3 separate regions of the Homo sapiens genome follow, and all the other regions are linked to region 2. Evidence: fine-mapped QTL for protein levels in blood plasma. Region 2 holds a variant in brackets. A gene starts in each other region. All regions are shown on their reverse strands.

The links. PIP is the chance, under the fine-mapping model, that this variant and not a neighbour inherited with it causes the effect. Protein levels are from antibody-based Olink assays in UK Biobank. Linkage for the fine-mapping came from a reference panel and not from the study's own genotypes, which makes the PIPs less certain.
Region 1: it holds the start of VEGFC, and the variant in region 2 is fine-mapped to the plasma level of the VEGFC protein (UK Biobank, PIP above 0.99).
Region 3: it holds the start of CCL28, and the variant in region 2 is fine-mapped to the plasma level of the CCL28 protein (UK Biobank, PIP above 0.99).

What each region holds. Positions count from the first base shown.
Region 1 is chr4:176,786,470-176,797,337 of GRCh38, reverse strand. It overlaps VEGFC (vascular endothelial growth factor C), which reads left to right and starts at 4,416. Exons shown (of 7, transcript NM_005429.5): 1 at 4,416-5,173. The coding sequence starts at 5,027.
Region 2 is chr11:114,077,648-114,088,515 of GRCh38, reverse strand. The region is part of intron 2 of ZBTB16 (zinc finger and BTB domain containing 16); the gene reads right to left. Among named protein-coding and RNA genes, the nearest start is that of ZBTB16, 23 kb to the right of the region's middle. The variant C/T (reference allele first, on the strand shown) is at 5,616.
Region 3 is chr5:43,407,505-43,418,372 of GRCh38, reverse strand. It overlaps CCL28 (C-C motif chemokine ligand 28), which reads left to right and starts at 5,982. Exons shown (of 3, transcript NM_148672.3): 1 at 5,982-6,120. The coding sequence starts at 6,057.

The sequences.
Region 1 (10,868 bases), not on the chromosome of region 2:
CCCACCAAGCCAGGAAGCTCAAGAGGCCTCAGTGATTTGCACTATTTTTGAATTTAGGATCTTTGCTTGAGCTACTAGGGAGAAGGATTTCAATGGGACCTCCAAGTTGTTGTACACCCGAAAATATCAGTAGAAAAGTTTTCAATAAACAAAAGTTCCATTTAGCCGAACCTACAGCAGTAAGGGAGAGTGCCACCTGGACAGGGTCTTAGGGTGTCTTGGGTAAGTCAGAAGCAGAATAGTTGTAGAGCTTTGGAGTCTGGACACGAGTAGTTTAAGGTGGGTCTTTCAAAGTGGGGAATTGAGTAAGATTGGGCAACGTTCATGATCTAGTAGTTTAGGATCAGTTAACATCTGTAAGTGAGAGTTTGGGTAAGAAAACTGTCATTAATAAGCAGGCTGTTTACCAGAGTCAGAATATTATTATCTTCGATATATTGTTTTGCCAGCATTTCTTGAAGCAAACACTGAATTTAAATACTGGATTGCAGTCTTATCTTTTCCAGGCTAATGTTTCCTAGAAGAAACAACTAAGTCATGTGTACATAACTGGTTCATAGTTTTACCTAAGTCATGTTCACAGCTGATCTCAATTCTTAAAGCCTATGATTTTAATATCAGAAAAAGTAGAACTTCAAATAAAAATATCAGAAGTTAAAAAAATGACATTGTATACTACCAAGAAGAAAATTAGATCAAAATGATATAGTATCCCATTATGTTAAAAAATAACAGGAAGAACTACTGTCAGAAACAGAAAAACATGTCAACAATTATAACTGGAGATTTTAACGTCATTCCCAAACAAGATTTGAACATTATAATAAGCTCAAAATTAATACCCAACAAAAATAAAGCACACACAGAATTAGTTGCAATGATCAGCCATGTCCAGGACTACAAAGAAAGCCTGAATGCATTTCTAAAAGCAACATCATTTATAGCAAAAATTAAATATAATAAAATTAGAAATTGATAAAAATCATATATCCCTAAACTAAGAAAACACAAATAATTTGGGGGTTAAAAATATAAACAAATTAAGATATATTTGCAACTGTTTGCCAAAGGAAGCACTACGTATCAAAATTGAGAAATACAAGTAAAGCAGAATTTAGACAAAACTTGTATTTTATTGATCGACTGATTGATTGCAGAGATGGGGTCTTGCTGTGTTGCCCAGGCTGGTCTCAAAGTAACTTCAAGTGATCCTCCTTCCTCAGCCTCCCCAAATGCTGGGATTACAGATGTGAGCCACCACACATGGCCCGAAACTTGTATTTTTAAACTAAAAAGAAGAAAAATGAACTAAGCATTCAGCTAAAAAAGCTTGAAATGAAGCAACAAAGTAAAACTAACAAAGCAAGAAGGTAGGGAATAACAAATGAGAAATAAAGTAGATGGTCAGAATGGATATTAGAGAATGTACAATGGATATATTATCATCATTATTTTGCCATCCAAAACTATCATCTCCCATATCTACTTGGGAGGCTGAGGCAGGAGAATAGCTTGAACCCAGGGGTTGCAGTGAGCTGACATGGTGCCACTGTACTCTAACTGCACTCCAGCATGGGAGACAGAGCGAGACTCCATCTCAAACAAACAAACACACACACACACACACACACACACACACACACAGACACAAAACACAAAGAACAAAACCTATCATCAAAGAAAACAAAAACTCAATATGTAAAAGAGGTGTTATTCTGGCTGGGGCCCTGCTACCTCTCTTTCTCCACTGACTGAGCAATGCTTTTTGAATAACCAGATTTAGAAGACCTGTTGTAAAATAGGTCTTGCATGAAGCTAGTGATGAACTCACAAACCAGTGAAAAGGACTTTCTCAACCTTTAAAATCTGCTAGTGGCAAAAAGTGTTTCCAGGGGGTAAGGAAGAAAAAAAACCAAAAAGTCCTGAGCAACTATTCGTTTTTACCTTAAGACATTCTGTGTGTGTGTGTGTGTGTGTGTGTGTGTGTGTGTGTGTGTGTGTGTGTGTGTGTGTGTGTTTTAAGTAGAGACGGGGTTTCACCAACGTTTGAAAATATTTATCATGGTCTCCCTAAGATGGACGGTGTTAGCTAGGATGGTCTCGATCTCCTGACCTCATGATCCACCCGCCTCGGCCTCCCAAAGTGCTGGGATTACAGGCGTGAGCCACCGTGCCCGACCAACCTTAAGACAAACAACTACTGCATGATTGTTTTTGGAGACCTTTTTTTTATTCAAATAAACTTTTTGCCAGCATTTTCTGACTCAAAGTATAGCAGCAGGAAGATAACACTTTTGTGAGAAAAAAGTTTGAATACAGCTTACTGCTGTATTTAAATGAAACAGTAGTTAATATGATATTAATATATTTTGGATATATTTTGAGTTTGTTGATTTTCCAGTCTTCACCCGCTGCTAGGCCTGTGGGTGTTGGAAATGCCTGTGGTTCTCAATTTTGTTTGCCTATTAGAATCCTGATGTCCAAGCCTTACTCCAGTTAGACCAGTTAAGCCAGAAAGGCAGAAGGTGTACTCAAGCATCTGTTTTTTCAAAATCTCCTTTTGTGATGCCAAGTGCAATCAAAGTTTAGAATCATTGTAATAGCAAATGGTTGAATGGAAACTCCACCTTCTATTCAAATCCTACCCCAGTCTGCCCTTAGCTGTTCCCTTTTCACAGATCTATCAATGTCTGAAGATAACTATGGCAGGCTGATCAAATATGCATAGAGCAGGAAGACAGCAAGAGAGTGATACACTGACCATGTTCCAAATCACAAAACATCTCAACAGGCTAGATCATGGACCGAGTCTGATGGGATGGAATTTCATAAAGATACATAAAAAAGCATCTTGGATACAGTAAACTTAACTCCACAAATACAGGGGAATTTAGACGTGACTAAGTAGCAGTACATATGAAAAATTATTGAGGAATTTTGTTGACTTTAAGGGTAGTGTGAGTCAACACTGTGATTTGGCTGCCAGAAAATAAACTCAATCCAAGGCTGTATCAACAAAGGCATACTGTCCATTCTGCATGCTCATTACAGCACTAAGTACCGAGCCATGTTCTCAACCGCATACTTCATGAACATGGAAAGCTAACAGTATGGTTAAGGGGGGAAACTGGAACTGTCATCTTGGGGAATAAAAGGGATATTTAGCCAGGAGTAAAGTTAGCTTAGGGAGACCATGATAAATATTTTCAAAATATTTGAAGGACTCAGTTGTGGAAGTGAGATTAGATTTATTGTGTAAAACTCCAGGAGTCAAAAGCAATAGAGAGATAGAAGGAAATGCTTTTCAGCAGTGTTGCTCATCAATAAAGGGAGTGAACAGCCACACAGAATGGAAGGTTCCCTGTCCTTTGAGATATTTAAGCCTTCAAGTAAATTATGGGTGAGGAGTTTCAAATCTAGAGTTGAACCAGATAAGAAAGTCTCTTCTTCCGGTAAGATATTATGGACCTATAACATCTGTGTACTTAAAAGTAGATTGGGAGTGAAAGGCAGACTTTTGATGTTCTGTACACTGTTGAAACCCCTTAGCGTGGTCCTCTGTAACCTGCTCACCCTGCCCCAAGGAGGCAGCTAGCCAATGCCACCAGCCCAACGGAAACCCCAGTGCTTTTCCAATGGGGAAATGCAGTCACTTTTCTTTGGATGCTACACATCCTTTCTGGAATATGTCTCACACACATCTCTCTTTATCACCCCCTTTTTCAAGTAAACCAACTTCTTGCAGAAGCTGACAATGTGTCTCTTTACTCTCCACGAAGATTCTGGCCCTTCTCTTCACCTGTCAGAAGTTTAGGATTCCAAAGGGATCATTAGCATCCATCCCAACAGCCTGCACTGCATCCTGAGAACTGCGGTTCTTGGATCATCAGGCAACTTTCAACTACACAGACCAAGGGAGAGAGGGGACCCCTCCGAGGTCCCATAGGGTTCTCTGACATAGTGATGACCTTTTCTTGGAACTTTTACAACCCCCAGGACATTTCCAAACTTTGAGCAGGGCTCTGGGGGCCAGGCGTGCGGGAGGGAGGACAAGAACTCGGGAGTGGCCGAGGATAAAGCGGGGGCTCCCTCCACCCCACGGTGCCCAGTTTCTCCCCGCTGCACGTGGTCCAGGGTGGTCGCATCACCTCTAAAGCCGGTCCCGCCAACCGCCAGCCCCGGGACTGAACTTGCCCCTCCGGCCGCCCGCTCCCCGCAGGGGACAGGGGCGGGGAGGGAGAGATCCAGAGGGGGGCCGGGGGAGGTGGGGCCGCCGGGGAGGAGGCGAGGGAAACGGGGAGCTCCAGGGAGACGGCTTCCGAGGGAGAGTGAGAGGGGAGGGCAGCCCGGGCTCGGCACGCTCCCTCCCTCGGCCGCTTTCTCTCACATAAGCGCAGGCAGAGGGCGCGTCAGTCATGCCCTGCCCCTGCGCCCGCCGCCGCCGCCGCCGCCGCTCAGCCCGGCGCGCTCTGGAGGATCCTGCGCCGCGGCGCTCCCGGGCCCCGCCGCCGCCAGCCGCCCCGCCGCCCTCCTCCCGCCCCCGGCACCGCCGCCAGCGCCCCCGCCGCAGCGCCCGCGGCCCGGCTCCTCTCACTTCGGGGAAGGGGAGGGAGGAGGGGGACGAGGGCTCTGGCGGGTTTGGAGGGGCTGAACATCGCGGGGTGTTCTGGTGTCCCCCGCCCCGCCTCTCCAAAAAGCTACACCGACGCGGACCGCGGCGGCGTCCTCCCTCGCCCTCGCTTCACCTCGCGGGCTCCGAATGCGGGGAGCTCGGATGTCCGGTTTCCTGTGAGGCTTTTACCTGACACCCGCCGCCTTTCCCCGGCACTGGCTGGGAGGGCGCCCTGCAAAGTTGGGAACGCGGAGCCCCGGACCCGCTCCCGCCGCCTCCGGCTCGCCCAGGGGGGGTCGCCGGGAGGAGCCCGGGGGAGAGGGACCAGGAGGGGCCCGCGGCCTCGCAGGGGCGCCCGCGCCCCCACCCCTGCCCCCGCCAGCGGACCGGTCCCCCACCCCCGGTCCTTCCACCATGCACTTGCTGGGCTTCTTCTCTGTGGCGTGTTCTCTGCTCGCCGCTGCGCTGCTCCCGGGTCCTCGCGAGGCGCCCGCCGCCGCCGCCGCCTTCGAGTCCGGACTCGACCTCTCGGACGCGGAGCCCGACGCGGGCGAGGCCACGGTAGGTCTGCGTTAGGGTTTGCGGAGAACCCGAGAGTTTGCGTTAGGGTCTGCGGCGGACCCGAGAACCTGCGCGGGGGAAAGTGTGTGTGCTTTAAGCTTGTGTACGTGGGATCCAAAGTTACTGAGCTCAGTGCACGCTGCTTTGGAGAAAAATCTTCTTCTTTTTAAATAGAAAGTTGTTACTAGAGAGGCAAGCAAGTTACACGAGTGAAGGGCCCGGAGAGGTGCCCAGTGAGAGATCCCGAAATCTATTTCAGACTGGTTTCCTCTGGGGCAACCAAGGGGTCTTGAACCCTGCCCAGTCAGCGGGGCTCTGGAGAGTATGAGTTCATTTTGGTCGGGAAATGCTCGTTTCTTTCCCCAGCTGATTCATGGGACTCCAAACAGATTCTGGGACACTGGTGATCAGTCAACCCAGCCTTACTTTCCTGGAGTGTTCATAGTCTGCAGAGCACCAGGCGCTGTGAGCGACTTTAGAAAAAAAGTGTCAGGGACTTTAGTAACCAGGCTCCAGAGCTTTCAGAGTTCACTTGAAGTTGGTCAGACTTGAGATGTAACGGGAGATTAGAGTCAGTTAGATCACAATCAAGCAATGCAAGGCTTGTTTCAACTTTATAAGCTCTTCATTCCTAAAATCTGGTCATGAGATACTGCAAACTAAGTTTTTTTTTTTCTTGTTTGGGTTTTTTGTTTGTTTTGTTTTCTTTTAAATAAGAGGTGTTTAATCCTTTGCCTGAAAATGTTGCCAAAATACTTTTGAGGCATCCTGATTTTGAAAAAGGATTTGTGTGTGTTCCTACTTCTTACTGGCTCTTCCAAAAGAGTATATCTTTATCTAAAAAGTTCATACCTGCCATAACCATATAGAGTATGCTTAAGAGAGTTCCTAAAGAAGTTATATTCGACATTTCAGTTCAAACACTTGCAGTACCCCTTGCTGGAACTATACTGCGGTAGTTTATTTCAACTGGTGGCAAGTGGAGAGGTACCTGTGGTGTGTTACAGTCAACTTTAATTTGACTGTTGATTAACACATACACAATGTGTAGAAAATAGCCTTATATTTTGAAATATTTTATTTATATTTATATTTTGAAATACACTTAAAGATTGAGAAGACTAATTTTTGGAAATCAAACTACCTTTGCATTTAAATTTTGGGAAAACATTAAAATGTTGGAATGTGTAATAATTTAATATAGGGGTTAAAGGAATGCCTCTTGAGTAAAAACAATATACATGAAATAGAACAGACTGCATTCTGTGAATCACAAAAATAATTTTCAGTGCCTATACTTACATTGCCGTAACTATAGTGATGAAAATATCTTTCTGTTCTTAAATACCGCAGAAATGTAATAATCGGCTCAATAACGCTTCTGATAATTTGAGTCCTTGATTTTGCAGTACCTATTTGCTATTTCTGCAAAGTCAAAACTAGTAAAAGTATGATTTAGTAAGGCAACATCTCTGTATTGGTTACGGTCACTTACTTTGGTTTACAGTAAGAAAATGTGCAGTAGAGAGTAAAATGAGAAACATTCCCTGATAAGCCAATAGCCTGTATGAGAGTCACTCACTGCTGGGTGAGTCTAGAATTAATGTACCTTGAGTGTGTGTGTGTGTGTGTTTACGTGTGTTATGTATAGGTATGGGATTGGAGGATTAAAAAAGTTAACTTATTTTTAACTTTCAAAAGTGTCTTCGTTGGTGATGTAAAATTTGCCATTGGTGATATGGCAAATTTTACCATTGCTGTGAAAATCACTATGCATTTTTGTTTGCAAATGTCGCTTTTCATATTTAACCATTTTTATATTCTGTATGGTGAATATGGGTTAGTATTCTGCATGTGATGTGGGTTCCTTTCCTATGTGATGAAACATCATTTCCCATATGAAACATCATCTCTGAGTTCCATAGACCACAAAGCAGTATTTCATTGCTCCATTAAAGTGTCGTTCCCCAGTGGGTGAATAGAGCCTTGACAGGGCATGTGTCATTAATGCATTCAGTGAAACTGCTGTGTCCTTGCTATGAAACATGTCACACAACTGCCAAGAAACTGATATGAAGACTCTATGTCTCTCCCTAGTGGCCTGTACAAGCACCACATTTAGATTTAAGCACTAGAGAAGAACTGGGGAGAAATCAATTGTTAATTTTCTATAACTACATGAACCCCAAGAAAATATTTCAGAAGGTAAACAGAAGATGCTAAATATCTATAATCCCAATAGATGCAATGTTTTCATAACTTTCACCTAGGAACTTTTTTAATATTTAAAAAATCAAAAATAGCACACAAACTATGAACCAAGGTTAGCCATCCAGCCCTTCAGCCCACCCGTAAAGCCATGCAAAAGATTGTAGGTAAAAATCACAAATAGAATGAAGATCTCCTTATTCCTCGACTTATATTTGCATTTACTGGATTCCTATTTCTAGTTATTTGTGGTTGCATGACTTACTGAAAAGTCTTAAAATGTTTCTCTGAAGGATGTTAACACAAACAAGACAGTGTCAAAAAAGTAAGGCAGGCAAAAGTAAAATTAACTGGACATGATGGGAACAAAAGAGAATAGCAAGTCTGAAGCTGTTCTATTTACAATTTTTCTTATAGTATATGATTATGTTTGTCAACATCTACTCTTATAAGAGATTTCTGACATTCCTCTGAGTGATGCTACTTATATGAGGTTTTAGATATAGAAAGTTCAATTCATCTTTCATTTTGATTTCCACTCCATTATAGTCTTCTGAACTATGAATATCTGATTGATAGCTATTTATTCACAAGACAGTTATCAAAATTGCTTCATAGAAAGCAGTTAATTACTGATCTTAGTGGCATATGTCTAAGACCCGTAGATCTCTAATCCTGTCCTTTTCAGTTGAGTTGAGAAAGACGGAGGGTAGTGGATTTAGATTTCATTTTGGACTTCCAGTTCTGGTTCCGGTTCCTCTTGAGAGGAAGGTCCTGGCCTCCTAGTTATCTCCATGTGTCCAACCCAGAATGCTGTTTCTCAGCTCTTGCTGGGGTTTTCACCAACAGAGGAACTGGCGTGAGACTAATGAAGGTTTCCCGAATCCCTGGGACTGTGCTTGCCTGCTTGCCTTTGGCAGTCCTGGGGTTGTTATTGAGAGTAGGAGTTTATAATCATTATCTGTGATGTTCATAACGTGTGTTAAGCACTTCGCAAAGAGCTTTGCAAGTTAGTTTTGTTTTTCACTACACCTCCATAATATGGACATTATTTTATTTCATTAAGGATGATGAACCCAAGATCTGAATGACTTAACCAGGAAAAAGAATAGATGTTTTTTTCCTTTTTTTCTTTTAAAAAAAGTTTTATGGCATATACCAACAGTCCCCGACTTAGAATGGTTCTATTTAGGACTTTTGGACTTTACAATGGTGCAAAGTCGATAGACATTCAGTAGAAACCATACTTCAAGGTTTGAATTTTGATCTTTTCCTGGGCTAATAATATGCAGTAAAATACTTTCTCTGGATGCTGGACAATGGAAGTGAGCTGTGACCAGTCAGCCATGTGATCGTGAGAGTAAACAACAGGTACTCTACTGTATATTAAATATATTTTCAACTCAGGAGGAATTTGTCAGGATGTAGCCCCATCGTAAATCGAGAAGCATGTATGTTTTAGAGAAATGTGGTAATGGGTTTGGGCCTTTGGGCCTGTGATTCAGACTCCTTTCAGCCCCTCTGCTGGTCTCCTTTGGCACACTATAGCAGCGTGCAGGAAGGCAGAGAAAAGCACTGCGTGTGACTTTGCAGTTAGGGGCACCTTGTTGCATTTATTTAGGTCCTAATTCCCCACAACGGGACAAACGGAAATAAACCCAGACTTTCTTCCAGGCTTTACCACATGGTGTTCGTTTGACTAAAGATAAATTATAAATGACCTAATCCATGGTAATATTATAAGAACGACTGCTTAACTGGAGGCTTAACAAGATTTTCTGACAAACGGTTTTTCAAAGTTGTGCTCAAGTAACTTCAGTGAAAGATTGTGATTTTACCTCTGCCAAATGACCTTTCACAAATAAGTGGATTTGGAAAGAACAAATTTAAGTTGGCAGAAGCGTTATACTTCCTCTGACTTCTGAGCATATATTGTTTCACCTTTCACCAGTTACATTATTCCTTGTAGATGTGCATTTTATAAATACTATATGGGTCTACCTTTTGTTACAAACACATATTTGTATGTACAGATTTGTATAAATTGTGGATTAAGTTATCATTGATTTTTCTCATTAGAAAAAACAGATATAGCAGAGAACTTTAAACAAGGAGAGATGCTGATGAGTTTGAGTTATAGTGTAATTATAAAATTTACTATAAATATTTTAGGTTTGTGTAATTGTTTTTCTGAAACTTACTAGTGTAAATTTTTGGGGTGGCTTCTTTCCTCGGTTGATTAATTTTTTTTTTCAGAGTTTATGTTTAACCATGAGAAAGCAGAGACTGTTTTTATTTAATTTGCTTTATTGGGCATCCATCATGGAATTAATCAAATTGTACATTAAATGCTTTGTCAGTGGATTAGTACTGTTTCCTTATACTGCTCGCGCCCTAGTGGCTTTCAGGTGTTAGGAGTTATCCACGATAGTTTTTTTTCCAATTTTGAAATCCAAAAACTCATTTTCTTTTTCTTTCTTTCCTTTTTTTTTTTTTTTTTGAGACAGGGTCATGCTCTATTGCCCAGGCTGGAGTGCAGTGGCATGATGTTGGCTCACTGCAACCTCTGCCTCGTGGGTTCAAGCGATTCTCGTGCCTCAGCCTCCCAAGTAGCTGGAATTACAGGCATGTGCCACTAGAGCAGGCTAATTTTTGTATTTTTCATAGAGAGAGGGTTTTGTCTTGTAGGCGAAGCTGGTTTCAAACTCCTGACTTCAGGTGATCCACTTGATCTCCTAAAGTGCTGGGATTACAGGCATGAGCCACTGCGCCCGGCCCCAAAAGCTAATTTTCTTAAATTATTTGGTGCTATAATCCTGATCTGAACTGACATAAGGCTATTTATAGTCATTATTATCTAATTTAAATATTTCTAATCTTCACTGGGAAAATAGTAATGTATTTATTTACATGATGCTGCCATCAGTCCTGCTTGTTTTTGGGGTGTGAGTATTAATATGTCTATGCACTTGGTTTCCAGAAAAATTCCAGGTTCAGAGACTCTTGCAGTCTCCAGGCATTTTGGATAAGCAGATGGATTGTAGCCCTGTTCCACAGGCCTTCCTCCATTGCTTTATTGCCTTGGGGCTGCCTGGAAGAGGCAGGGAAAGGTAATCCAGGAATTCAAGAAAGAAGCCATGTGGATGCTCCTAATTCCTTTTTACCCATTAGTACCAGGTTTATTTGCTCTTTAATCTACTTCAACTCATGTTAATCAGTTCTTACTAGTGGCAGCTTCAGTTCTAAGCAGGAAATTACAGTTCAGTGTGTGATGCAAAAAATGTAGAGTGAGTGATCTTGTCTATAACAAGCTTATAATCATTTTGGAGAAAATAAATTTACTCATTAAAAATACTACAAGTGAATTAAACTATAAATCCAGACCATGTAAGTGGTTTTGTAAGAGAGTCTTGTGAGTTACCACCAGTTGTTGGCTAGCCTTCTGGGAGTTGCATGGGCAGGCCTGGGAAAGGTGGAATGATATGAG
Region 2 (10,868 bases):
TCCAGGTCCTGCCCACAAAAACGTGGGGTTTCTTAGGGAAGAAATGAACAGAAATACAAACAATAAAAGATCCAGGCCGGGCACAGTGACTCACACCTGTAATCCTAGCACTCTGGGAGGCTAAGGCAGGAAGATCACTTGAGGCGAGGAGTTGGGGACCAGCCTGGCCAGCATGGCGAAACCGCATCTCTACTAAAAATACAAAAATTAGCCAGGCATGGTAGCGCATGTCTGTAATCTCAGCTACTCGGGAGGCTGAGACACAAGAATCACTTGAACCCAAGAGGCAGAGGCTGCAGTGAGCCAAGTTCATGCCACTACACTCCAGCCTGGGCAACAGAGTGAGACTCTGTATCAAAAAAAAAAAAAAAAAAAGAAGTATCTGGCTTTATCTATACCTCTTCTGGTGTGGGAGCTCCAATGGAGGGACATATTATTTCCAACTGGATGCAAGGAGGAAGAATGCCCCAGGAAAGGATGCTGCAAGGAGAGGGCATTTACACTGAAGCATGAGAGATTTGGCCCTGTTGCGATGACCAGAGAAGGATATGGCATGGGAAGGGAAGCATAAGAGTTTACTCAACAGCAGCATCTGCTGAGTTGCCATATGCTAGAGAGTGGACTAAAAGGTTGTAACACAGATGTGAAAAAGATGGTCCCTGCCTTCAGGGGTGTACATTCTAAGAAATATGCAGAGAAAGGGATGAAGAGTGAAAATGTAGCTGGAATCTAGGATCCCGGATGGCTTTGAATGCCACGCTAAGAATTCTCTCGTTTCTTCTCTAGAATAGGCCATAGTGAGCCACTGCAGGGTTCAGAGCAGGAGAGCAACCCCATCAGAGCCCTACTCTGCTCAGGGAAGTGGGGTGATGAGCCTTGCAGGGGTGCACTGCAGGAAGGCTGGTGAGGAAATCAGGACAGCCATCTGGTTAAGTAGGCTGGAGAGGCAAATGGTGGATATGGAAGGCAAAGGGAAGACAGGAGCCACAGATGATGCCAAAGTCTGCAGTTGGGTGCCTGGGAAGAGGGCAGAGACCACAAAACATGAGGACACAGGAGACGATTCGAGAGGAAGGTGTTGAACTAGCTCAAACACATCACATTCTAGATCCTTGCAGGACTGGTGTGCCCGTGAGGCTACTGGAAAAGAATGTGTGAAACACAAGAAAAGACAAAAAACGAAAAACAACTAGAGGTAGAGATCTGGAAATCACCCACAGAGGGTTGCTTGTGGAAACCACAAGATTGTCAAGAAAGACACTGGAGAGACAGGAGAACTGGTAAGGTCATCTTCTTCTACATTCAGCAGAGAGGGTCACGGTTTCAACAGACATCGATGAACAACCACCATCTTTCCCGTGAGAAGAGAAACTACCAGCATTTTGCAGATGATGAAACAGACTCAGGAAGAGGGGGAGGTGGCCAAAGTGTTTGCCACTTAGAAAGTGGCAATGTCAGGATTCAAACACAGATCCCAGGGAGTTCCAGGCACCACATGGCACTGACCCTAGGGAGGGAGTTCCAGGAAATACCAGAGGAGGAGGGGGAGAAGTTGGCAGGAACAGGAGGGGTCAATGGAGCCAATACTGGAGTCTGGGAAAGTATTAGTTGGCGCAAAAGTAATTGCAGTTTTTGCCATTGAAAGTAATGTCTAAAATAGCAATTACTTTTGCACCAACCTAATACAGTGCTCTTGAGAACTAAGAGGTCACAAGCAACCTTTGAAAGAACAGCATCAACAGAGTTGAGGAGCTCTCAGGGCAAATGAAACAAGAAGTCCAAAGCTGGAGAGAATAACTCTGAAAGCACCCAAGTATTCCTTTTAATAGGATTCACCTCACAGGTGGTTGTGAGGATGGGATGTGTTAATGCAAGTAAAGTGCTTTGTCCATAGTAAATGCTCAATTAGCTATTATTTACTGAGTACCTACTATGTATTCAGCATGGTGTCAGCAGACAGCTGAGGGAGAGAAGATAAACCACAATCACTATCCTCATGGAACTTAGGTTGTGGCTGGGGGGATAAAACTTAAACTCAAACGAGGCAGCAGAGCTTATACTCAAATGGTGCAAACTGGAGATGGCACAGGAGACAGAAGAGGAAGCCAGCAAGCACCAAGACAGACAGACAGCGCTTCCCAGAGAAGCCTGACTTGAGGAGGTCTTGAAGGCTGGACAGGATGAGAGACACCAAGGAGAAAAAGAAGGACAATCCAAGTGCCAGTGGGGGTGGGGGAGTAGTGAATGCCAAAAACAAAAGCACTTCCGTTCCAAATCCCACTCTCCTGGCCACGCCTGGCTCCTCTGAGGCCCAGGGCTGAGTTTGCACTGCTGCGTAATGTTTGCAAAGGGTACAGCATGAATGTGAAAAAGGACAGGTGTGTGACTAGCCTAATGCCCCATTCAGCAGGCTCCACAGAGCAGGGCAGGAGTTAGTGGGCGTAAGAACTTCAAGCAAGCACCCAAGCCAGGCTGTCTGCAAGGCTCTTTACCACCACCACCCCCATCACTAAATACGTAGAAGGCTGAGGACATCAGAGGGGCTCTGCATTCTGAGCAGCCACATGGTCTCACACCCTCCCCAGTTTTGTCTTCCAATAATATCGCAATGATCCAACCCCTATCAAGTGCGCCTTACAAATGTCCAGAAAGCTAGCTTGGTATTCAAATCATTCTAGGACCTGGCCCCAATCCACTTTCCCTGCTTGATCTCCCATCCTACCCCATGCCCATCGCCCCATTCCAGCACACTACCTTGTATACAGGCACCTGCCCCCACCCATACACTGCCACACATTAGCTCATCTCCTACCTCCAAATGGCAGTTCCTGTCTCCACTTGTCCAAAGCCTAGCCATTCTCTAAAACCTGGCCAAATGCTACCTCCTCCATGAAGCCCTCCTGAATCTTCAATCAAAATTCAAAATTCAATTCCTCTCCTCTGCTCCCCCATACCTCACTTATATAATATTTAATCATACAGTCTGATATATATATATACACACACACACACACAAAGTCATACACATATGGCTGTCATTTCTGTTTTACAGTGAACTCTTACAGGGATTTATTAATTTCTCTGCATTACCCCCATAGCATTTAGCAACCACCTAGTACACAGTGATGCTCAGTAAATGCTTTTTGAATTGAATACCTATGGCTAAGGCCTCACTGTTTGGGGGACCTCCTCGAACCATGGGTGGCAATCCATTAGTGGGTCTTCATTAACGTTCTTAAATGAAATAAGATAGAATGGAAGAGAAGATACCAGAGCATATAGTAAAGATAAATAGAGTTTCATTGAACCTTTGGTTTGAGGTACGTTTGTCCATGCACTGGGCTGAGATGGAAAATGTACTACTTGCTGTGGGCCACAGCCTCCACTCTAAGATAAACCAGCAAATTAAAAACCCAACTTATCAGAGGTATCGTCAAAATCCTAACTTCTGAAGAATTCCTGAGGGTCACTACACACTCCACTCAATCACCGCCTACCACAGCTTCAGAACAGCATCATCACAGTAGGTTTTTGGAATCTGGACAAGAGTCCTCAATCATTGAACATGCCACAGGTCCCCTAGACTCTGCCCACTAAGGCAGGAAAGCACAGGGCTCCAAGGTGGGCAGATCTGAGCTAGCTTGATGACTAAAAACGGGATGCAGGATTTAACCCTTTGCTAACCAGACCATGTGCCTGAACAGCAGCTCATCTAAACATTGACTGTATTTTAAACCCAGAAAGCAACATTCCCAGATGATCCTGAGCAATAAGGCCTCCTCCCAGGATTTCTAACTTGAGGCCCCACGTGGAGAAGGGTGTCTAATCTGGGCTTGGAGGAACAGGGCTCTGGGATGATGCACGGAGTGGGGGCTCCCTCCCCTGCCTGACCCTGGCACCTGCTCCTTCTCACCCCTCTCATCAACCCCCACCCGCTCACCTGCTACCTGAGAATCACACAGCTGGCCACAGATCTCTACATTAGTTCAAAAAACCCTCCTCCTCCGGAGCTCTTATCCCTCTAAATAATGAATTTCTCAGCCCTAATTAATGCAAGAAAAGGGATGATATACATTTCTCTGTTGCTTTAAGTTACAGCTAGTTGGACACTCTGAGGGAAGAGCAGCCTCTAGCTAAAGGGTTAGATAAGCTAAAATCAATGTAAGCCACCGCCTCCAAATCTTTTAAATCACCACCTTCTCTCCCCCGACCATCTCTAAGCCAGACCCCTACAGTGGGCATGGAGCAATGTGTAAGCCTGGAAATGACCACCCATTCAAGCTAAAGGCAAGAGAGAGATCAATCCCCTACTGCCACCAAAAAATGAAATAAATAAAATAAAATAACTGCAGCCTCTGGGAGCAATCAGACAGCCAAGAACAAAGGAAATAACCTGAGAGCATGCAATGGAAACAATAGGATGGAGACACTCAGTGGACAGATTAGTAGAAACATAACATCTTAAACAATGGAGGTGAGAGCCTGGTTCTTCCACCAACGGATTAAAGCCACCTGGTTATGTCACGAAATATAATCACCCTGATGTGATCAGATGAAACAGTGATAGAAGATTTATCATCCTGGAAGTATCTGAGAGAGGGTTATAAGAATCATGAGAGGAACTAAAATCATAGAAGAGAAACTGCTGCCTAAATAAGGAAGCCATATAGTTACCTTATAAGTATCACCCACAGAGCAGAATTCTTGGCGGTGGGGCGGGGGGGCGGCATCAAGAATACTTTGAAAATGAAATGTCCTGCTCAAAGAACAGTTACTTCCCTCTCCTGGCTGCGGGGGTGGAGGGATCCAAGGGGAAGCTGGGTGGTACAGAACACGGGAGAGCCTCCGAAGTCCCTTCCAGCCCATCTCCCACCACAGCAGAACAGGGCAACCCCAGATGTCAGGGTAGTGGATTCTATCACCCTAAGAGGGCAGAGGGGAGAGGGCACAGTGCTAGGGCTCAGCTCATCTGAAAGGGCTGTGGGTGGCTGAGGAAGCTTGGAGGGGAAAGGCAGCTGAAGTACAATATATGTTCTACCACGGCCCCCTGGAGCCAGCGACTGGGACGTGAGACAAGTGGGCATGGCTCCTTTTCAAGCCAGAGTCTCCAAAACCAATTTCTTAAAGCTAGCCTCCAGTGGCCAGTGGGTTTCGGGCAGGGAAGGAGGATGTCTATACTGCAGGTTGAAGTTTAATTTATATTTAGGAACTGTTTGTTTTATTTGGTTTTGGGTTAAAGGTGGTAGGTGCCAAGCAAGACTATCCCCCTTTCAACTTCTTTTTTTAAAAAAGACAAAGAAAAGAGAAAAACAAAACAACCAAACACCCGTAGCCCAAGGCCATGCTGCGCTGTGGGCGGCCTACATGAGCTTCCTTTATCCAACCACAAAAAGGCATCCGTGGAACCAGCGAGGGGCCCTGGAACGGCGTTTCCAAGGCCGGCCCGCTCCTCCGTTGAGGTTAGCAGTTACCCAGGGGCCAGGAGCCACTCGGGCAAACAGCCCATGCCCCTCGTTACACAACGTTGGGGCCCTTATCTCCCCATGCCACTGTCGGTTTGCAGACATTGCGTAGTGCTACGACCACAGCCGAGACTGGCCCGCGGGAGATAGCGT[C/T]GCTGTTCACTATCAGGGAGGCAAGAGGGGAGACTGGGTTTCTATTAAAAGAGAGTTAGAGAGACGGGTAACAGTCCGGCAGACCAGCTTCAGAGTGTCACTTCCTTTGATCCTGACAGCTGAAGACCCCCTCTCCCCAGGCCCCTCTCCCAGCTTCCCCGCCCACCGAGAGGTGGCAAGGGTCCATTTCATGTCCTCTCATCAAATCTTGGTAGAGTGCCAGGTACAAGATACAGGGGAGAGGTCTCCTTAGGAGCTGATGATCACGCACTAAACTCCTTTTCAGACAGGCTCGTGAAGGCAGGGAAGGAGCAGGGGGCAGTCAGACACATGCCTAGTGGATGTCACATCAGTATGGAGCACTCCAGTCACGTCACTCTCCTTTTCAAATGCCTTCCAAGGCTCCAACTCTCCCGGGATAAAGTCCAAAAAGAAACAGCAGTTAAAACAAACAGCAGTTATATTTATTGAGCAACTACACTGTTACAGGCACTGTGCAGAGTGTGTTAAGTACACTACCCCAAATCCTCAGGCTATCCCACACAATAACTGCACTGTAGGAATGAAGAAGCTACAGTTCATGGTGTGTGTTGCTGTTGTTGTTGTTGTTGTGTTGAAATAGAGATAGGGTCTCACTTTGTTGCCCAGGCTGGAGTGCAGTGGCGTGATCATAGCTCACCACAGCCTTGAACTTATAAGTTCAAGCCATCCTCCCTCTTCAGCCACCCGAGAAGCTGGGATTATGGGCATGCACAGCTGCATTTTTAATTTTTTTTTTTTTTTTGTAAAGATCGTCTCGCTATATTGCCCAAGCCAGTCTCAAACTTCTGGCCTCACGCAATCCTCCTGCCTTGGCCTCCCAAAGCACTGGGATGACAGGTGTGAGCCACTGCACCCAGCCAGTTCACAGTCCTTGATGGCCAACATCACACAGTTTGCAAGTGGCAGCATGAAAATCTGAACCCGGGTCTGCTCAACTTCAAACTCATTTTCTCTCCATTCTTCATGCTGCCTTCTCTAATCTCTCTCCACGCATTTATAGCACCACAGTCTGACCCCAGCCTACCATTCCAGCATGAATCACCCTCATTCCTGCCAAAGAAAGTTACTCCTTGTTTTCTCCCCTGGCCCTGACCACAATTTTCCTTCTTTCTGTCCCCGTCTTCAAAACCTACTTATCCTTTAATATCCTACTCATGTGCTACTTCATCCAGGCTCCCAACATGTATCAAAATCACCCTTACACAGTTACGGACAGGACTGCTAGCTAAGTAAGGATCTTTCTTCCCCATTAGGAAAGCCCCAGGAGGGTAGACGTCTTGTCTATCTTGCTCATCACAGTATTCCCAGGGCCTACCCAGGTGCCCAGCAGACAGTAAGTGCTCAACAAGGTTTTAAAATTTAAAATGAATCACTCCAGACAGAAGTCATTTCAACTCTGAATATATATATCATAGTCTTTCCATTTCCTATTCTCTGTCATAGATATCAACATACATATTTTAACTCAAAGTATAAGCTCTTCAAGGAAAAGTCCCATGTCTTAGCAATCTTTGGGTCTCAAAACCCCCAACATAGGGCATTGTCTGTAAATCCTAAGGAGTTGATGTACATTAGTCTGCTCAGGCTCAGCAGCAGAGAGGTTAATGAGTGTCCCAGGAGGCAAGTCACCATGCCAGAAACCCCCCAGCATCCCTCACAGACAAAGATCTGAAACTGCTCTCAAGTCAGATTCTAGTCTTGCCTACCCCTTGGTAGAAGCAGAGAACAGACCTGGGCAGTCACAGGCAGGCTTGTGAAGGAAGAATTAAAGTGGGCTGGGAGTGAGGGTCCTGGTTTTGCCTCTAGCTTGCTGTGTGACCTAGGGAAAATCACAGAACCTCTCTGGACCTCCACTTACTCCTCCCAAATGAGCATGCTGCAATAAATGATTCCAAGGGCCCTTCAGCTCTGACTGTGATTCTTGGACACATTGAGAGCCCACGCCTGCAAAGCAGGTGGAGAGTGCCTTCCTCAACAGGTGGCAAGAGGAGGAATGGAGACAGGGACACTTAGACAACCTCTCTGTGCTATTCCTCAACCTTCCGAAAATAAACAAACCTTAGCTAGTGAATAAGCCAGTCCCTCTCGTTAGCCAGAACAACAAGCATGATATGAATATGGATCTGAAGTAAATAGAAGGGAGAAAGCAGATACTGAAATGGATTTTCAATAAATAACTTCCCTCTAGTTAAACCTGAATTTTTTCCCACATATGTATGCTTTCACAGATCCAGTTTGGGAGCATTCAAATTAGCACAACCTGGCCTTAAATACTGCACAAAACACATAGTAAGCATTTTGCTTTTATTTATGTCATCAATGGTTTCAATGGGAATGACTCATCCTTCCTCTTTAACACTCTGTTCTAATATGGTTTACTATAAATAATGCAGAGAGAGAGAGAGAGAGAGAGGGAGCACCAGCGAGAGCGAGCATGTGCAGCTCAGCACAAGGCCCCTGCACTGTTAGGTCACAAAAGAGCCGAGTCCAACAGACAATCCTAAGGTGAATCTTGGGCTCAGTGGATGGGCGAGTGTTGGTTCAATGGAGAGGAAAAGCAAACATTCCTCTCTCCACTATTCAAGTGTTCGGGGCAAGGAACATTGTCAGGAAAGGGGAAAAAAATACATGCTGAGTATATGCCAGGTACCAGGCTAAGATTTGAACACACAAGCTCCTTTAACCTTCCAGAGCCTTCCAAAGAGGCAGAGTCAGAATTCAAACTCAGGCCACTGTGCCTCCCAGGCCTCCCTACTCCCCGGGGTGTAGGGGGTCAAAACTCAATCCATTCTTTCTAGCCTCAACCAACATCTAACAGTGACAGTCCTGGTTTTTTGTTTTGTTTTGTTTTCTTTTCTGTTCTTTTAACAACAGAAGTGCCGCCCCGGAGCCCAAACTCACAGGAGGCCAAACCACAAATGCAGAAACATTACAGCAGTTAAAAGGAGTCTTCCCAGTCCCAGGCAATCCATGGCAGCGACTCCTTCCTCACTGGGAGTCCAGCCATAGTAGCTGGAAATCAAAAGCCCCTTGGCCTTGTCCACTTCCCACCTAAGAAGTGAGGCCAACACTCACCCCAGTGCTGAGCCAACAAGCCTTCCCCACACACCCCTTCCAGAATCTGCCTTCCGAGTCAGACACAGCAGCCGACAGTGCTTATCACTCACTATAGTCAACAGATTTGCTACTGCATTATTTTGACCATTTCCAATAGTCACATCTACCCTCCCAAAAGGCAAAGCAAAAGAATGCGGCACACACTTCAGAAAGAATTCCCAAACATTCCCAAACTCTGTGGGGCTGTGGCAGCATCACAGGATTAAGCAATCATTTATTAGAAATGTGGCTTCTTTAGAACAGCAGTAGCACTTTGCAAATGGAAACTTTTATATTCACAATGTACTAACATTATTCACCTATTATTTCACCAGCTGGCTGCTAGCACAGGGTTAGTACTATCATCAATTTAGCAGTGCCCAAAACAAAAGATTTCACTGGTTCCTTTCATAGTTTCTCCCCGGGCCATAACAGGGCTACAGCGCAATCATACATGTCTACCCAGTACACCTGCACTCTGCTATGCACTTTACACGTTTTTTATCCTCATTACCATGGACAAGGTGGTCATTTTCAAAAGAAAAGTAAACAGGGGCTCAGAGAAGCTAAGCCACTTGCCCAAGACATACAGATAGTAAATTCTGGAGCCTGAGTCTTCATCCAGGGTGCCTCCTTCTTCTTCTTCTTCTTTTTTTTTTTTTAATGAGACAAAGTCTTGGGCTGGAGTGCAACGGCAGGATCTGGGCTCACTGCAACCTCCGCCTCCTTCAAGCAATTTTCCTGCCTCAGCCTCTCCCGACTAGCTGGGATTACAGGCACCTGTAATCCCAAGCGATTTTCCTGCCTCAGCCTCCCCCGACTAGCTGGGATTACAGGCACCTGCCACCCAGCTAATTTTTGTATTTTTAGTAGAGACTGGGTTTCACCATGTTGGCCAGGCTGGTCTCAAACTCCTGACCTCAGGTGACCCACCTGTCTCAGCCTCCCACAGGGTGCCTCCTTCTAAAGCCAACCTTCTTCCCTTCATTCCATACTGTCCCTAGAAAATACCACGCCCGCCCCCTCCTAGAAAGTCTCCTTCTTGAGTGAGGAACCCCCTCCCCCTCAATTCCTGGGCTGTATTTCACTATCTTTAGCATCTCTTGGACTTTGAGCTAGCTGTTTCAACTTCCCAGTGAGTCTGTCCCAGTAGATGCCCCCTGCTCTAAATAGCACCCTCTGCGATCCGCAAACATTACAAGGACATCAAAACAAAGCTATCAGCTGGGTTCCTAGCTTTAGCAGCCAGTCTAAACTCTTTTGTTTGTTTCTCAGACAGCTTATTGACTAGGTGATGAGGTCAGAAGTTTTCTTTTCTCCTTGGCTCTTCAAGAAGCACCTGCAAAGTCAGGGAAGGTAGAAAAAGTCCACTCATTTAAGATTTCAGATGAACATCATTTTTCTGAGCATCAATTGCTTACCAGCCAACAACTTGTAGGGGTGGGAGACGACCAAGGGAGAAAAAGATGGGAACTTAAAAAGCAAAGATAACCTCCACCCTTTCCCATCTTGTATTAATGTGGGCATAGGCAACCCACTTGATGAAATGTTCTCAGAGACTCTGCATGTCCACATGAAGGAGGAGAAAAGTAGGTGAGGGCAGGAAGCTGATCAACCGTATGATAAATGCAGCTGTTGTATGTGACAAGCTACCTGTTTTCTTTCATCAGGCTCTTTCACACTTCTCCAGCCCACTAAAAGAGGGTCCTGGCTCCCCACCTGTCCCCTCCTTCATAACACACCACCCCTCACCCTGACCCCAACAGTTTATCTTTGCATATTGGAAAAACTGGCATTTATCAAGTAATCTACTCCTCATAGGTTGTTAAACAGACCACAGGGGTTATCAGTGGGGCTGATATAGGAAGATAAACAGCAACCTCTTATGCAAATAGCACTAAGAATGTGGGACTGGCCACAGGACAAAAGCAGAATTTAGGAGAACATGAATCTTAACACTTTTCTTCAGTTGCAACCCTGGAAACCCACAGGAACCTGGAGAAGGTTCTCTTGGGTGGGATTTCCCCTCCCTTTCTTGCAGGGAGGGGCAGGTGTGTCAGGAGGTGCAGCCTGCTTTGCAAGGCAAGGTGGCGGCTTCACGTCTGATGAGGCAAC
Region 3 (10,868 bases), not on the chromosome of region 2:
GCTCTGCCCTACTTTAGCAGATCTATTAACTACAAATCAGAACTCAAGTATTATGCAAGTTAAAAGGTGATTATTCTCAATGCCAAAGGATTTATCAAAAGGTCCATTACATTATAAATTATCCTAGGATATTTAAATGTTGATATGATTTTCAAAATATTCCATCCAGACCGGGCACGGTGGCTCGTGCCTGTAATCCCAGCACTCTGGGAGACCAAGGCGGGTGGATCGCTTGAGGTCAGGAGTTCAAGACCAGCCTGGCCAACATGGTGACACCCTGTCTCTCCTTCAAATACAAAAATTAGCAGGGTGTGGTGGCACATGCCTGTAGTCCTAGCTCCTTGGGAGGCTGAGGCTGGAGAATCTCTTGAACCTGGGAGGCAGAAGCTGCAGTGAGCCAAGATCGTGCCACTGCACTCCAGCCTGGGTGACAAGAGTGAAATTCCATCTCAAAAAAAATTTTTATATATATAGATACACACATATATATATATATTCCATCCATATACTAATTTTCCAAGACAAATATTCAAGAAAGCTTCAGTGGCTTAATTTTATTTTGCGAAAGTTACTGTTTGGAAATCATCCTTCTAATCCAAGCAGGTCATTTTGCCCAGTGCAGAGATGGCAGCAGGTATTTTTATGATCATTTGAGATTTACAATTTACTTCTTTTTAAAGTAAAAACTATGTGGTTCTTCCTGGTAATTTTTTTTGTTTTTTTCCTGGAAGGTTACATCTAGATATTCTTAGCCAGGACCATTTCATAAATGGAAAACACAAAACCAGACATAGTTTTAGGTCCTCAACTGTTTCATTCTATGGCTCAACTATCCTCTGGGCCCTAACGGCACACATTTCTGTCTCCTCATTTTCTTTTGCAGAGTCCCTGTGCACAGAGAAAAATACTTAGGTAATCAAAGTTATTCATCTGAATCCACCCCTTTGGGGCTCCTTCCTAGTTTATCGGTGGTCCATTTCTGCCTAGTTAGCATCCCTCTCAAACACAGACACACATGCCCCATAATCATAAACTGTCCTGTGTTCTCTGCAGACAAAAATCCCATGGTTCAGTTTTTCTCTCACTCCAAACAAAACTGATGTGCCCAGCGTTCCTCTTATTCATGTCTTAGTACAAAAACTTAGTAAAAAAAAATGACATGGCATAGGGTTTTTAGTGGTTTACAGGTTCCTGTTGGCAGATGTCAGGCTTGCTTTTTAGCACCAGGGTAACATAATACCCTCCCATAAGGCTGTAATTCCAGTGGTGGTAATTTCATGAGTGCTTCAATAGTTTTGGTTCTACATGTTATAGCAGCTGTCTTCTAGTAACCACTACCCAACCCACGAACCTGTTCCAGTGCCCCCAGGAAAGTGTGGATGAAAGGGAGAGTGCTAACAACCCAAGGAGGAGTCCCTTTGTTTTCCAAGTCCCTGGATTCTGTCCCTATGTCTTCCTGCTGGCAGGGGCAAGGTGACATTTCCTAGCAGAAGAAATATGCACACAGTGAAAGAGAAGCTGTCTTGTCAAATACAAAAGCAAATAAAAGTACACGAGTGAATACAGGGGGCCTAATTGCAGGCTCATTCAAATTCAGTCCAGCCTTTCTTGTCAGTGCCCTAATAACTGTGTTATACAGTGGCATGATCATAGCTCACTATAGCCTCAACCTCCTGTGCTCAAGAGATCCTCCCACCTCAGCCTCTCAAGTAACTGAGACTACAGGCGCATGCCAGTGCCTGGCTAATTTTTAAAAAAATTTTTAGTATAGCTGAGGTGTTGCTATGTTGGTCAAGCTGGTCTCAAACTCCTGGGCTCAAGCAATCCTTCCACCTTGGTCTCCCATAGTGTTGGGATTACAGATATGAGTCACCACACCCAGCCTCCTGACTCTTATCTTCAGAGCACACGGCTTTGGTCCAGAGGGGCTCCTGTGGTTATGGCTGGTGTGTGTAATTTCACAGGTCTTTGTCACCTCCACAGGTTGGTTCTCTGTCCTCCTTTATCAAGACCTGTGGTAAGGTCCCTTTGCTTAGTGGAAAGGCTGGAATGCTGCTGTGGGTCTTCTCATTCAAGAGGTCACTATCTTTGCAAGTCTGTTGCTCTCCAAAGCTCCCATTCCTTATTATAACTCTGGTTCTTGATAGTGAATTGGAGCTTGGTTAAATGTAACTTGATAGCTGGGGTAAATTTGGACACCTGCTCTTGATCTTCAAAAGCAGCAACACCCAATGCAAATATGTGATCTACCCATGTGATTTGAAATATTCTGGGTTTCAATTACATATGTAATTGTTTTAGTCTGTTTTATGCTGCTATAACAGAATATCTCTGTTTGAGGAAAAAAACTCTCGAACTGTTTTTCCTCTGCTCTCATACCACAAAAATCATCAACACAGAAGACTTCTATAACCAAATATGTAGGGGGTAAATTGGTGCATACACCAAGCAGCGGACACCAGCTAGGTGTCCTCCAATTCAGTTCTGACACTATCTACCAAGAGATAGTGCCAGAACCAGAGGTTGAGGGCTCAGTCCCATGAGATCACCCCCTACTTCCCACCAGTCACAAGTCCAGACCTCCAGAACTTCTGAACAGCTGGCTCCAAGTTGGGGTTCCCACAACCTCTCTATGGGTTTGATTAATTGGCTGGAGTATGGGGGAAATTCAGCCAGATATCGGGCGAAATTCACCCCCAATATTTCACGTAGGTTCTTTTCTATATTCCCTAAGTGTTGGCCAGTCTGAGAAATAAAGGGACAGAGTACAAAAGAGAGAAATTTTGAAGCTGGGTGTCCAGGGGAGACATCACATGTTGGCAGGTTCTGTGATGCCCCCTGAGCCGTAAAACCAGCAAGTTTTTATTGGTGATTTTCAAAAGGGGAGGGAGTGTATGAATAGGGTGTTGGTCACAGAGATCACGTGCTTCATAAGGTAATAGAATATCACAAGACAAATGGAGGCAGGGCAAGATCACAGGATCACAGGACCGGGGCAAAATTAAAATTGCTAATGAAGTTTTGGGCATGCATTGTCATTGATAGCATCTTATCAGGAGACAGGGTTTGAGAGCAGACAACCAGTCTGACCAAAATTTATTAGGCAGGAATTTCCTCATCCTAATAAGCCTGGGAGCACTATGGGAGACTGGGGCTTATTTCATCCCTACAGCTTCGACCATAAAAGATGGCCACCCCCTGAAGTGGCCATTTCAGAGGCCTACCCTCACTGACACATTCTCTTTCTCAGGGATGTTCCTTGCTGAGAAAAATAATTCAGCGATATTTCTCCCATTTGCTTTTGAAAGAAGAGAAATATGGCTCTGTTCCGCCCGGCTCACCGGCAGTCAGAGTTTAAGGTTATCTCTCTTGTTCCCTGAACATTGCTGTTATCCTGTTCTTTTTTCCAGGTGCCCAGATTTCATATCGTTCAAACACACATACTCTACAAACAATTTGTGCAGTTAACGCAATCATCACAGGGTCCTGAGGTGACATATATCCTCCTCAGCTTATGAAGATGATGGGATTAAGAGATTAAAGACAGGCATAGGAAATCACAAGGATATTGATTGGGGAAGTGATAAGGGTCCATGAAATCTTCACAATTTATGTTCAGAGATTGCAGTAAAGACAGGCGTAAGAAATTATAAAAGTATTAATTTGGGGAACTAATAAATGTCCATGAAATCTTCACAATTTATGTTCTTCTGCCATGGCTTCAGCCGGTTGGTCCCTCCATTCGGGGTTCCTGACTTCCTGCAACACTGGAGTGGCTCACAGAACTCAGGGAAATACTTACATTTAACGGTTTATTATAAGAGACAGTACAGAAGATACAGATGAAGGCCAGACATAGTGGCTCATGCCCGTAATCCCAGCACTTTGGGAGGCCAAGGCAGGAGGATCGCTTGAGGCCAAGGTATGGGGGAAGGGATGCAGAGCTTCCATGCCTTCCCTGGGCACGCCACCCTCTAAGAACCTCCACATGTTCAGCTATCCAGAAGCTCTCCAAACTCTGCCCTTTTGGGGTTTTACAAAGGCTTCATTACATAGGCATGATTAACAACCATGTAGAAATGTGATTAGACAAAAAGCACATAATCTAAACCCAGCAAGTCCTGCCTGTTCAGGCTTTTCTTGGCCTGTGTAGCATTCCTTCCTCTAGAGTATGGGACAGAACCCTTTCTGGAATGAGGATCTTATGACCCACAATCAGATTAGAGTCCTGCCTTGGGCAGGTGAAAGAAAAACAGAAGGTCAGAGAGAGATTCCGTTTCCTGAGGCCTGTTCCTGAAGCCTAAAGTGCCCCAACATTATAATATAAAAAAAAGACTGGGCTGGGCACAGTGGCTCATGTCTGTAATCCCAGCACTTTGGGAGGCCAAGGCGGGTGGATCACAAGGTCAGGAGTTCAAGACCAGCATCTTGCCAAGATGGTGAAACTCACTCCAGCCTGGGCAACAAAGCGAGACTCTGTCTCAAAAAAAAAACAAACAAACAAACAACAAAAAAAAACTGTAACAAGGGTTATGGGAGTTATAAGCCAGGAACCATGGATAAAAGCCAATATATATATCATAACACCACAACCCGAGACTGAGCAATTTATAAATAACAGAAATGTATTCTCTTACAATTATGGAGGCTGGGAAGTCCAAGATCAAGGCTCCAGTGATTTCAGTTTCTATTTCCAAGATGATGCCACTTTGCTGCATCTTTTGGAGAGAAGGAGCATTGTGTACTCACCTGGCAGAAGAGCAGAAGGTACCAACCCATTCCCACAAGCCCTTTTTATAGTAGCATTCATCCATTCATGAGGGTGGAGCCATCATAACCTAAACATTGTCCATTAGGCCCTATCTCCCAGCACTATTAGGGATTAATTTTCAACATGAGCTTTGGAGAAGAAAAAAATATTCAAACCACAGCAGTAATTTGAAAACATAAAAAGAAATGGGTGAAATTAATTTTAATAATATATTTTATTTAACCCAAAAAGTCCAAAATACTATCATGTAATCAATAAACAGTATAAACATTATTAACAAGATATTTTATATTTTTTTCTGTACCCAGTCTTTGAAATCCAGTGTGAATTTTATACCCATAGTACATCTGAGTTTGGACTACTCATATTTCAAGTGCTCAAGAGCCACATGTGGGCTAGCGGCTACCACATAGGACAACACAGTTCTAGAGGAAGCATGGCATGACTTTGGAGGTCATCTAGTCTGACTTGTTATTTACAGCAAAGTTAAGTACGTTGCCTGAGGTTATACAACTTATTAGTAGATGAGGAACAATTAGAATCCAATTATCTTCATGCTACCCCATGCTTTTATTCACAAAGCTGATTGGCAGCAAAGCTGCACTAGCGCTCATGCCTCTTCACACCTGCTCTTGGGCTCTTTTCTACAAGGCATTGCCCCCCTTCCTGTCTTTCTCCTAAATAAGCTATTGTAAAAAGCTTCACTGGAAACAATTTGGCTGTGAACCAAGACTAAAGTGGGGTTTAATACTTCCATATCTTTCCACAAAGATACATTTTTTATGACTTGTCACCCTTGTCCCCAGAAACTCATGGTTTCCATAAGCTACTTAAAAACTGATTATGCAATGGGTCTCAACATAAGTGTCCATCAGAATCACCTATAGAGCTTTTACAAAATTCAAATGACTGGTCTCCTACCTGGGAGTTCTGGTTTACAAATCAGGGAAAGGGGAGAGTCATTTAGATTGATTTTTTTTAATGTTCCCCAAATGATTCTGATGCACACCCCACCTCACAGTGACCCTGCCAGCTGCCAGATCTCCATTGACATCCCCTGACCCCCAGGCAGGATGAACACAAGTTAGGAGCTTAATAAGTCGAGGAGGAGCCTGGTCTTAAGGAAAGAAACATGAGAAATAGATACCCTGAACACCTCCCAGGGCGGGGCCACCTGGCTTACTTTTCCTCTGCACTTTCTCTGTGCCCAAGGACACCTTTAGCCTCATTTCCTGATCGAACAGCCTCACTTGTGTTGCTGTCAGTGCCAGTAGGGCAGGCAGGAATGCAGCAGAGAGGACTCGCCATCGTGGCCTTGGCTGTCTGTGCGGCCCTACATGCCTCAGAAGGTGAGTGGGGGCACTGGACACTTAGGCCTTCACTGGAAAGGGGGGTATCTCCCAAATCTGTGCTGGAAGGATTGAGGTGGGGCAAGAATATCTATCTCTTCAAGCAGGAATTTCCAATTGATTTCTGATTACCTACAAGAGAATGACATAGCTTTAAATTCTAGATCTCCCAGAAGTTTCAGGAAGGAACCTCATTCTAACAGGCATACTACAAATTTTTGCCACCTGGAGGATGAGGTCCTTCCATGTAGGTACAACTTCGAGCTATGTTTCCTTTTCTGAAGACAGTATCTTAGAAAATCCCCAGCTAGAGGCTGGAGTAAAGCCCCTACTATTCATCTGTCTTCCTCCACACCCCAACCTGCTAAACGGTCTGAACACAACTGTGCACATTCCTGGAGGGAAATACAGACTTGGCCAGCTGCGTTCAAATTAGGTAAGTTGTAAATTTCCTGAGCAAAGTCAGCTCTATGGATACAGAAAACTGAAACTTCAGTCTGACCTTTAAAAAGGGAGGGCAGAGCTGAGCACAGTGGTGCATGCCTGTATTCCCACCTACTTGGGAGGCTACGGCTGGAGGATAGCTTCAGGCCAGGAATTCAAGATTGCAGTGAGCTATGATCACACTGTGAATTGCCACTGCACTCTGAATTGCCACTGCACTCCAGCTTGGGCAACATAGTAAAACCCCATCTGTTAAAAACAAAAAGAGGGGAGGGGAGGGGAAAGAGAAGGAAAGGAAGAAAGGAAAGGAAAGAAAGAAAAAGAAGAAAAGCAGGATGAGGGAGATTGAACCATACAAATTATGTCAAAGAGAATTTAAATCGTGAGTTGCTAGCATGTATTTGGAGATTGTAACTGCATTTGAACTAGAGGGAATCTCTTCTAAAGTAGCACTCACTACTATATTCAGGAAACCCTAAGTGTCAGTACTTAATACTTGACCAATGACTCTTTTCCATTGTCATCTTTTCTTTAAGCTTTATCCTGAACAGATTCTCTAAGTCTAGAGCAGAGGTGGAATATAAGTCTTTGGTCTGCTTTTTAAAAATCTGAGCCAACATTTTAAAACTGAAAGCTTTCTCATGTACATACTCATACATACACACATACAAATTGGATTTTAAAGCTTCTCTTGAGAAATCAGATGTGGCAACAATGATTCCACCATACCATGGCAAGAACTGGCTAAAGCAGATGAGCCTCTGAAGTTTGCTGTATTAACTGCCTGGTCCCTGCAGGCATTTGCTTAGGGACTCCCAATATAGTCCGTCAATGTACTGGGCTTATACAAATAAGCAACAGAAAAAACCTGGACAATCTCTTCTCAATTTCTACTAATCTATCTATCTTATCAATATAAAGACAAAAATTTGTCACTTTATGTTTCTGTAACATTTCTCAGAAAAATTCACCATTGAGATTTGGGGACTCATTTTCACTATTTCTGAAAGGCCTACCTGCTAAGGCTTCACTCCTAGTTCTGGTAATTCCACCAACTCAAATTTTTTACATAAAACTTTGAAATGTGTACCTCCATCCAGCTTCCTGACCTACTCCCACCTGTCCCCACAGCGGCAGCTCTCCTACAGGAAAGGAGGGAGGGAACAGCAGGTCGAGGAGGCAGAGGGTAATGAGGAAGGCTCTGCCATACCCAGGACCCACCTTCACATGGGACTGAGTCCTGGTAGAGACGGTGGGGTGGAACGGCAAAATGCAGAGGTGTGTGAAAAGGTACGGCTGCTGGTGATAATAAGGAAGGGAGCCGAGAGACCCAGCAATAGCCTTTTGGGTTAGTCTCGATGCTTTACCTAAGGCAGTTTAGGCCACAGGAAAATCACATTGCCTGAGAAGCTCCAAACTTCTGTCATTTAAAAATAAGTGATACTGGGTAAAAATACACAAGTAGGCCTGAGAACAGTCGTGGAATAGAGGGGCAACGCCACAGCTATTCTTAACAAACTTCCACTCAAGTGTCCATGTAAGCCAGGTGCCCTGTGGGAGGCACTTAAGTGATTCTGGCTCCAGGGAGGGGGTGGAAAACCAAGTGGGGAGGGAGGAAGGTAGAGAACACTCAACAACTCAACAGTGCAGAGAAGAGGACAGGTGGCCTTGGCAAGGGGAATAGGAAAAAGGCCTGTGCCAGTTTGGAACTTTGGGAAATATATTTTGTTTCCTTGAGGCAGAAAGCTGTTCCCTTATCTTAATGGTGTCTTAAATGGCTATCTTGTTGTGATGGCTCAATAACTGGCATTCCCTAAGTGTTTTGCATAAATCAGGAAGCAGGTGACTTTATCTATAATTAAAAGCCTTGGATTCTGCCCAAAGGTAGGGCACACTCCACCTCTGCTGACGTGGCTGCTGGCTCCCAGAACTCAATACTGAATCCATAAACATGTCTATCATCCTGTTTCGGTGGCCCTGAGCCTGATTATTTAAACCCACAATCTAGGACTTTGTGGGCCTGGCTGTTTTATTGTACATTAAGATTAAGGCTCACTTGTGCCCAGCAGATTCAAGTTAGGAGGTTTTGCTGCAGTGAGTCCCAAATTGCCTTCCCACTGACAACCTTCTTTCTCAGAGTACAATGGCTACTGAATCACACCAATACTTGCTAGAGATTTGCTGCTTGCATCCTAAAACGTTTACCTTTTGTTTTAATCATAAGACTCTGGCTAGGGAAGGTTACCACGAATATACATTTGTGACTCAATGTTGTTCTGCACAATTGGGACTCCAATTGTGGTCCCTAAGAGGTCTGACATAGGTGGGACTACAGGTGCATGCCACCACACCTAGCTAATTTTTTGTTTGTTTGTTTTTGGAGATGGAGTTTGTTGCTCTTGTCGCCCAGGCTGGAGTGCAATGGTGCAATCTCGGCTCACTGCAACCTCCGCCTCCTGGGTTCAAGCAATTCTCCTGCCTCAGCCTCCTGAGTAGCTGGGATTAGAAGCGTGCACCACCACACCCAGCTAATTTTTGTATTTTTAGTAGAGACGGGGTTTCACCATGTTGGCCAGGCTGGTCTCAAACTCCTGACCTCAGGTGATACACCCACCTCGGCCTCACAAAGTGCTGAGATTACAGGTGTGAGCCACCATGCCCAGGCACACCTGGCTAATTAAAAAAATTTTTCTTGTAGAGATAGAGTCTCACTATGTTGCCCAGACTGGTCTTGAACTCCTGGCCTCAAGCAAGTCTCCTGCCTTGGCCTCGCTGCCTGTAATCCCAGCAATTGGGAGAATGAGGCAGAAAGATTGCTTGAGCCCAGGAGTTCGAGGCTGCAGTGAGCCATGATCGCACCACTGCACTTCAGCCTGGGTGAAAGAGTGAGACTCTCATTTCAAAAAAAAAAAAAAGTAAAAAATTACCAAAAAAATAAAATTACCAAAAATGTCACAAAAATTAAAGAATTTATCCTAATATTATGAAAGTTACAAATACTTAGTGTATTTTCAAATATAAAAATTTAAAGAATTAAAAAAAGGAAAGTCCCTCTTCATCATTCCTTTAATCCCTCTCCCCTCTCCAGAGGGTTCTGCATATCCTTCCAGAATTTCCTCTATGCATTTAGCAATGTGAACCCACACATACATCCACACCAATTTTTTTTTATTATACTTAAAGGTCTAGGGTACATGTGCACAATGTGCAGGTTTGTTACATATGTATACATGTGCCATGTAGGTGTGCTGCACCCATTAACTCATCATTTACAATAAGTATATCTCCTAACGCTATCCCTCCCCGCTCCCCCCACCTTACGACAGGCCCTGGTGTGTGATGTTCCCCACCCTGGGTCCAAGTGTTCTCACTGTTCAATTCCCACCTATGAATGAGAACATGCGGTGTTTGGTTTTCTGTCCTTGCAATAGTTTGCTCAGAATGATGGTTTCCAGCATCATCCATGTCCCTACAAAGGACATGAACTCATCCTTTTTTATGGCTGCCTAGTATTCCATGGTGTATATGTGCCACATTTTCTTAATCCAGTCTATCATTGATGGACATGTGGGTTGGTTCCAAGTCTTTGCTATTGTGAATAGTGCTGCAATAAACATACATGTGCATGTGTCTTTATAGCAGCATGATTTATAATCCTTTGGGTAAATGCCCAGTAATGGGATGGCTGGTCAAATAGTATTTCTAGTTCTAGATCCTTGAGAAATCACCACACTGTCTTCCACAATTGTTGAACTAGTTTAGAGTCCCACTAACAGTGTAAAAGTGTTCCTATTTCTCCACATCCTCTCCAGCACCTGTTGTTTCCTGACTTTTGAATGATTGCCATTCTAACTGGTGTGAGATGGTATCTCATTGTGGTTTTGATTTGCATTTCTCTGATGGCCAGTGATGATGAGCATTTTTTCATGGTCTGTTGGCTGCATAAATGTCTTCTTTTCAGAAATGTCTGTTCATATCCTTCACCCACTTTTTGATGGGGTTGATTTTTTCTTGTAAATTTGTTTAAGTTCTTTGTAGATTCTGGATATTAGCCCTTTGTCAGATGGATAGATTGTAAAAATTTTTCTCCCATTCTGTAGGTTGCCTGTTCACTCTGATGGTATTTTCTTTTGCTGTGCACAAGTTCTTTGGTTTAATTAGATCCCATTTGTCAATTTTGGCTATTGTTGCCATTGCTTTTGGTGTTTTAGTCATGAAGTCCTTGCCCATGCCTATGGCATGTATGGTATTGCATAGGCTTTCTTCTAGGGTTTTCATGGTTTTTGGTCTAACACTTAAGTCTT